Linked DNA regions of Homo sapiens. The protein of the gene in region 2 purifies or fractionates together with the protein of the main gene of each other region. This does not show direct contact. Each region holds a gene or a part of one and is shown on either strand. Other genes may lie near its edges.

The links.
Region 1: the proteins of OXNAD1 (region 2) and SRR purify together in Homo sapiens (affinity purification with mass spectrometry; 2 studies listed by BioGRID and IntAct, with this or other methods). This does not show direct contact.

Annotation. Positions count from the first base shown.
Region 1 is NC_000017.11:2,310,340-2,314,160, reverse strand, and holds part of SRR (serine racemase), read right to left. Parts: intron 1-3,821. UniProt on the Homo sapiens protein: Catalyzes the synthesis of D-serine from L-serine. D-serine is a key coagonist with glutamate at NMDA receptors. Has dehydratase activity towards both L-serine and D-serine.
Region 2 is NC_000003.12:16,303,185-16,306,881, reverse strand, and holds the end of OXNAD1 (oxidoreductase NAD-binding domain-containing protein 1 isoform 2 precursor), read right to left. Parts: intron 3,475-3,697; coding exon 3,320-3,474; 3' UTR 795-3,319; downstream 1-794.

The DNA.
Region 1 (3,821 bases), on a different chromosome or scaffold from region 2:
CATTCTCAATATACATTATGTAACAGTTAAAGCAAACATTTTATTTGCTCCTACATTTGACTCAGTTTCTTTACAATTTTCATAATTTTCAATAACTACATTAAGCTTCCACTTTCCACTGTGTCTATTGTAGCAGTTAAATATGAAGTTTCTCTATTTTTCCTTATTACAAAAGAATCTATATTCATTAGAAAACTGAGTTAATCTGAAAATACAGAGATACAAAAAGAACATGAAAATAGCCACGAAACCTTCCTACCTAAAGACAGTTGCTATCCAGTGGTTTACCTTTCCAGGCCCAACTACATATGCAGACAAAACTCTTTGGTAGGTTTGGTAACTTCTTTTTTTGTCAGACAGTATTATGAATATCAATGAATCTCATAGGTGAGTACATTTATCAACATTTTTTTTTTGTTGTTTTTTTGAGATGGAGTTTCACTGTCACCCAGACTGAAGTGCAGTGGCATGACTGTGGCTCACTGCAACCTCTGCCTCCTGGGTTCAAGCAATTCTCCTGCCTCAACCTCCTGAGTTGCTGGCATTACAGGCGCCCACCACCACACCCAGCTAATTTTTATATTTTTCGTAGAGGCGGGGTTTCACCATGTTGGCCAGGCTGGTCTTGAACTCCTGATCTTAGGTGATCCGCCCGCCTCGGCCTCCCAAAGTGCTGGTATTACAGGCGTGAGCCACCACGCCCGGCCCATTTATCCAACTTTTTTTTTTTTTTTGAGAGAGTCTTGCTCTGCCGCCAGGCTGGAGTGCGGTGGCGCCATCTCAGCTCACTGCAACCTCTGCCTCCCAGGTTCAAGCGATTCTCCTGCCCTAGCCTCCCTAGTAGCTGGGATTACAGGCGCCTGCCACCACACCCAGCTAATTTTTTTATTTTTAGTGGAGACAGGGTTTCACCATGTTGGCCAGGCTAGTCTCGAACTCCTGACTTCAGGCAATCCACCTGGCTCAGCCTCCCAAAGTGCTGGGATTACAGGCGTGAGCCACTGCGCCCGGCTTTATCCAACTTTTAAAATGACTTAATAGTACTTCTTTTACAAAAATACAATAATTTAGCTGGGGGCAGTGACACACACTGGTAGTCCCGGCTACTTGGGAGGCTAAGGCGGGAGGCTTGCTTGAGCCCGGGAGTGTGTTATTATCACGTCTATGAATAGCCACTGTACTGTGGCCTGGGCAACATAAGCAGGACCCTATCTCTTGAAAAAGAAAAAATAATAATTTTAAGTTTACATAGCTCAAATGAACATTTGGATTTCCTTTTGTTGTTGTTGGCTGTAAGAATGATGTAATGAATAGCCTTGTTGCAAGATTTTTGTGTACCTCCGTCAGTCCTTAGGGTAGATTTCACCAAATGGTATTTTGTATCAAAAGGCATACATATTTCTAAGAAATCTGATACCCACTGCCAAACTGATCTCCAGAAGGGTCCTATATTACATCAATTTGTACTCCCAACAACAGTTTTGATGGAATGATGCCTCTTTTCCTTCATCCGTCCTATATCATTTTTATGTCAATTTAGTTATGTCTAGTAGTTGTTGTTTCTTTGAGACGGAGTCTTGCTCTGTTGCCCAGGCTGGAGTGCAGTGGTGGGATCTTGGCTCACTGCAACCTCCACCTCCCAGGTTCAAGTGATTCTCCTGCCTCAGCCTCCCGAGTAGCTGGGACTACCGGTGTGTGCCACCACGCCAGGCTAATTTTTTGTATTTTTAGTAGAGACAGGGTTTCACTGTGTTAGCCAGGATGGTCTCGATCTCCTGACTTCGTGATCCACCTGCCTCAGACTCCCAAAGTGCTGAGATTACAGGTGTGAGCCACTGTGCCTGGCAATGTCTAGTAGTTTTAATTTACATTAATTACTAGTGATTGAACATTTTTTTGTGTATCTTGGCCACTTGTTCTTTTCTCAGTCTTTTTTTTTTTTTTTTAGATAAGGTCTCACTCTGTTGTCCAGGCTGGTGTACAGTGGCTCAATTATGGCTCCCTGCAGCTTCAAACTCTTGAGCTCAAGTGATCTTCCCGCCTCAGCCTCCCAAGTACCTGGGACTATGACTGTGCACCACCATACCCAGCTAATTTTTTAAATTTTTATTTTAGTAGAGAGGAAGTCTTGCTGTGTTGCCCAGGCTGGTCTCAAACCCCTGAGCTCAAGTGATCCTTCCGCCTTGGCCTTCCAAAGTGCTGGGATTACAGGCATGAGGCACCACACCCAGCCTTCTTAACACACCATTTACTGACAGAATCCTTTTCCTCTGAAATGCTCTATTTATCAAAAATTAAATTTCTATGAATGGTTGGGGCTATTGTATTTTGTTCCATTGGCCAGACTGCCAATGTCTTTTCCTATTATATACTGTATTAATAAATTCTCCCTTGATTGCTCTAAAATTCATTGGCTTTTCTCACATATCAATTCTTTCAGGTGAACTAGAATTACTTTATCAAAGTTGCCAGAAATTCCATTGTAAAGATGTATAAATGAATTGGAGGCATTATTTATTTACTGAGACGGGGTCTCTTGTCGTCCAGGCTGGAGTGCATTGGCATGATCTCAGCTCACTGCAACCTCTGCCTCCCAGGCTCAGGCAATCCTCTCACCTCAGCCTCCTGAGTAGCTGGGACCACAGGTGCACTGTGCCACCACAAATACAAAAAACGTCTGTATTTTTTGTAGAGACAAGGTTTTGCCATGTTGCCCAGGCTGGTCTTGACCTTCTGAGCTCAAGTGATCCACCCACCTTGGCCTCCCAAAGTGCTGGGATTACAGGCGTGAGCCACCATGACGGGCCCGAAAACTCAATATTTTTTAATGTCAATTATGCCCCCTCGGCTGGGCACAGTGGCAGGAGGATTGCTTAAACCCAGGAGTTCAAGGCTGCAGTGAGTTATTGTACCACTGCAAGAGCAAGACCCTGTCTCTTAAAAACAAAAAAACAAGAGAACAAAAAATAGTTGGCTGGGCGTGGTGGCTCTTGCCTGTAATCCCAGCACTTTTGGAGGCCAAAGCAAGTGGATCACTTGAGATCAGGAGTTCAGGAGTTTGAGACCAGACTGACTAACATAGTAAAATCCCGTCTCCATTAAAAAAACAAAAATTGGCCGGGCGTGGTGGGTCACGCCTGTAATCCCAGCACTTTGGGAGGCTGAGGTGGGAAGATCACAAGGTCAGGAGATCGAGACCATCCTGGCTAACATGGTGAAACCCTGTCTCTACTAAAAATACAAAAAATTAGCCGGGCATGGTGGCGGGCACCTGTAGTCCCAGCTACTCGGGAGGCTGAGGCAGGAGAATGGCATGAACCCGGGAGGCGGAGTTTGCAGTGAGCCAAGATCATGCCACTGCACTCCAGCCTGGGTGACAGAGCAAGACTCTGTCTCAAACAAACAAACAAAAAAATTAGCCAGGAGTAGTGGCATTTGCCTGTAGTCCCAGCTACTAGGGAGGCTGAGGCAGAAAAATCGCTTGAACCTGGAAGGCAAAGGTTGCAGTAAGCCGAGAATGTTCCACTGCACTCCAGCCTGGGCGACAGAGTGAGACTCTGTCTCAAAAAAAAAACAACAACCAAAAATCCCAAAAAACCATGCCAGGCCTGAAGTCTCAATATTTTTATGAATAAATGTCAATTATGCCCCCTTGGCAGGATGCAGTGGCTCATACCTGTAATCCCAGCACTTTAGGTGGGCGGACTGCTTGAGCTCAGGAATTTAAGACCAGCCTGGGCAACACGTTGAAACCCTATCTCTACCAAAAATACAAAAATTAGCCGTGCAGGTGGCAGGCGCCTGTAGTGGTAATTCTACAG
Region 2 (3,697 bases):
AACCACTGATCCATCTTAACAGCATTAAAAGTGGGACAGACATTATATGCCTCATGTGATGCCACAGGAAGCACACCACTTTATAATACAGGCTTGCAAAAAAAAAATCTTGAATCCGAATATAAACAAGTTCTAAATCTAATTACCAGTTTACATGAAATACAGAGGAGAGAGGATCAAGCAACACCCTGAGGATACAATAGGCCAGGTTCAAAATGTGGGAAAGCCTACAGAACAAATAAGTCAGTTTCTTTAACAAATGAATCATGGGGGAAAAAAAGTGTCCATGTATATGTGTAGGGGGTGTAAGGAGTGTGCCATTAATTAATTAAAATAAAAGACATTAACCTAATGCAATATTCGGACTTTTGAGGCCATGAGGAAACAACACAGAAGGGTCTTAGAGGATATTAAGGAATCATTGTCACTTGTGTTAGGTATGATGATGACATTGTGGTTGTGCTGAGGTGATGTATCTGTTAGAAATATATACTGAAGAATTTAGAAGTGACACGATACAATTGCTAGGCTTTGCTTGAAAACACACCAGCAAGAAGAACACCCCCACAAAGAAGCTGAGGGCTGACAAAAACAGAATGCTGCTAGTCATGGAAGCCGGGTGATGGATGCACGAGAAGTCATTTTACTATCTCTACTTTGTCATATGTTTGAAAAAATATAAATAAAATCTGAGAAAGATACAAATATCAGACTAACCTAGTCCCTTGAGTAGGCTGGGAAAGGGTCTTATGTCAAAAGAAGAAACATTTTTTCAAACTCATAGAGCCAGAGGATCCTTAAGAAGTCACTTTAATCCAGCTTATCAACTCTGAGCATATTAACAAATATTTATGAAATACCTATTTTGTGCCTGGCACAGCAATAAACAAGACAGACGCACACCCACATGAAGGTTTCAAGTTAGACCACATCTAAGGCATCCAGCCTCTTGAAATCCTTTCTGAATAGGACAAGGAATAGCAAATTAATAACGACAACACACTCATGCAGTGCTCTGCCAAGCACTTTACATGTATGATCACCTTCAATCCCCGTAACAGCCCTATCATGTAGGTAGGTAGGCAGCAGTATCATCTCCCTTTTACATGTAGTTGTATGTAATTTTAAATGAGGCATAGAGCAGTTAAGTGACTTGCTCAAGGTCATCTACCTAGTAAGTAGTATAGGTGAGATCTGAACCCAGGCAATCTGGCTCAAGGGCTTTCGAGCCTATACTCTGAGCCACCGCACTATGAATTCCAAGCCACTCTGGCTGGAGTTAGCTCAATTTAAGTACCAAAAAGATCTGGACAGGCCTGGCAGGCAAGAGCAAGAGGACATTCTCGGCTAGACCTGAAAATGTTCTTCAGCACTTAGCACCAGAATAATGGCACTGAAAGGATGAACACTCCAGGCAAAGGTGATGACCTGGCCCATCTCAGCAATTCTGCCAATACTGAGTCAGCAACAGGGTGGCAGGCATAGCTGGGCAGGACAGATGACCCTTGCTCTCTGACAGTAGCAGGCACACAGCCAGCCGTGGTGCTGGCTAAACCGAGACAGTGGGCGACACCTCCCTATCTTCCCATCCCATGCTGCACTGGAGATGCTCACTTTGCACCTCCACTCCTAATGCAGAGAGGTCTGGGTTAGGTACTTTCCGCATACCTTTAGGTGTCCTCCCCCGCAGACTGCCTTCACCAGTTAGTAGACGTGCCCCTTGATAATCCCACATCCTTGCATCTCATCATGCTCCTATGCCCTCAGCCTGGGCACTTTGGGGCCAACTGGTAAGTCAGGGCTCCTTGTAGTGATCCAGAGCTTCACATATTCCCTTCACCTCTGAGGTACTAATGACCATTTCCTTGAATGGATTATGATATTCCCATCAGGTCAGTAGCTCCTCCCTTCCTCCCCAAATTCAAATCTGGGATCAAAATAGTTGACAAATGATCTCTGCTTAAAACTTGACAAAACTCAAAACTGGGCAGAAGCTAGAGTCACCTTCAGGTCCCATGAATCATATCTGTTCAAGCCCACAAGTCCCTGGGAGGCCTGCAACAACAAAGATAAGAAAGGGTAACCTGTCTTCTCTCATCCGCTCCAGAACAGAATCTCAACTGGAGCTCCTAGGTCTCCAGCACTTATCTGTCCTTCTTCCCAGGCTCCCTTCACCCTCCTGTGATCTCTATGCAGGCAACCTTGGGCCCAGGACTACTTGTCATAAAAGGAATGGCCTGGCCTCAGTCAGGACTTCTTTTGGATTTTTAAAAATCTAAACAAAGAACTACAATCTGCTTTCTAGCAGTTTCATCAGAGCAGCTTTGGGATGAGGCTCCACCATTCTTTCTATCCACTCTAGGGGACTGCCTCCCAATCTCAGACTTAGCAAGGAGTTAAAACATTAGTTGCTTTCTTTCAGTCATTCAACAACTATATGTTAAGGAGCTGCTGGTGCCAAGAACAATTCTGGCAAATGAGTGAAATAAAAAGTAGAAAAGCAGGATTTAGAAACAGCTCTCTACCCCCTAATCAATGCTAAGCACATTTCCATAGCAAGCCAGCCCAGGCACTGAAGGCAGATTCAACATGGAACACATCACCAATGCCTTTGTCCCAAGCAAGAAGCTGCCTCCTACAGCGTTAAGGCAGACAGCCAAGACACAGAAAGGGTTTCATTTGAGAAGAAACTAACAATTAGTCAGGATACACACTTAGGATATTCATTAACAAGAAAGCAAATATGCTGGATATTTAACTCCCTAAAGCAGTTTTCCTAACAATTTTCCATGTCCAAACTTAACTTTGATGGACCAAATAAGACTGTAGGCCATGGTACAGTAAACAAAGGCATTAAATAAAAAGAATTTTCAAAGTAAAATTATTAAGATTGTATTTAAATTATACTTTCATTAAACATAAGATATATAGATGGCTGTCAAATAATTTAAAGCTAGCCCACATTTTATACTCAAAAATCACATTTTCCTATGATTAGACATAAGTATATATCTTTTTTTTGCCTAAAGACAAAAGAAAAATCTATACTGACCAATCATGGTACATCATGAGACAATTAAATCGTTGTTAATAACAGAAAATCAGTATAGTAAAAAATAGTTTGATCACTGAGGTCTTTGCAAAAAGTTTATCATTTAAGTCTGCCAGCTGGCTTTTATTATCCAGCTGGTCACTAAGTTTATAGCCTTAAAAAATAAGACAACTCAAGTAGAGATAAAAAAAATTAATCATGCCACAAAGGACAGGAGCTCTCCTGAGTAGATCTCACCTCTTTATTTTTTCTGCCTTTGTCTGCCTCCTACCACCACTTCTCAAAGCAAATGTGTTCTTTGGGTACATGGTTGTTTTCCAGTTGCTTGGAGAAAAAGTCTGTCATTGGAGGTGGGCCACAAATATAGAACAAAGTCTCTTTTGAAATATGATCTCTTATCTCCTTCTCCGTTATTCTTCCTTCTACCAAAAACCAGAATAAACACCAAATTAAGCCAGACATGGTTGTATCAGCAAATGAGGAAGGACTAACCACAATTCAGATACAGTGTTTATTTCCAAGTTCAGTGAGTCTAGTCTTCTTAAGCCATTCACAGTATGGCTCCTATTGGCATCTGGGCCCAGACCCAAGCAGAGTGCATCTCCAGGCTTCCTAAACCTAAGCAAGCAAAGTGGGAAGCTCATC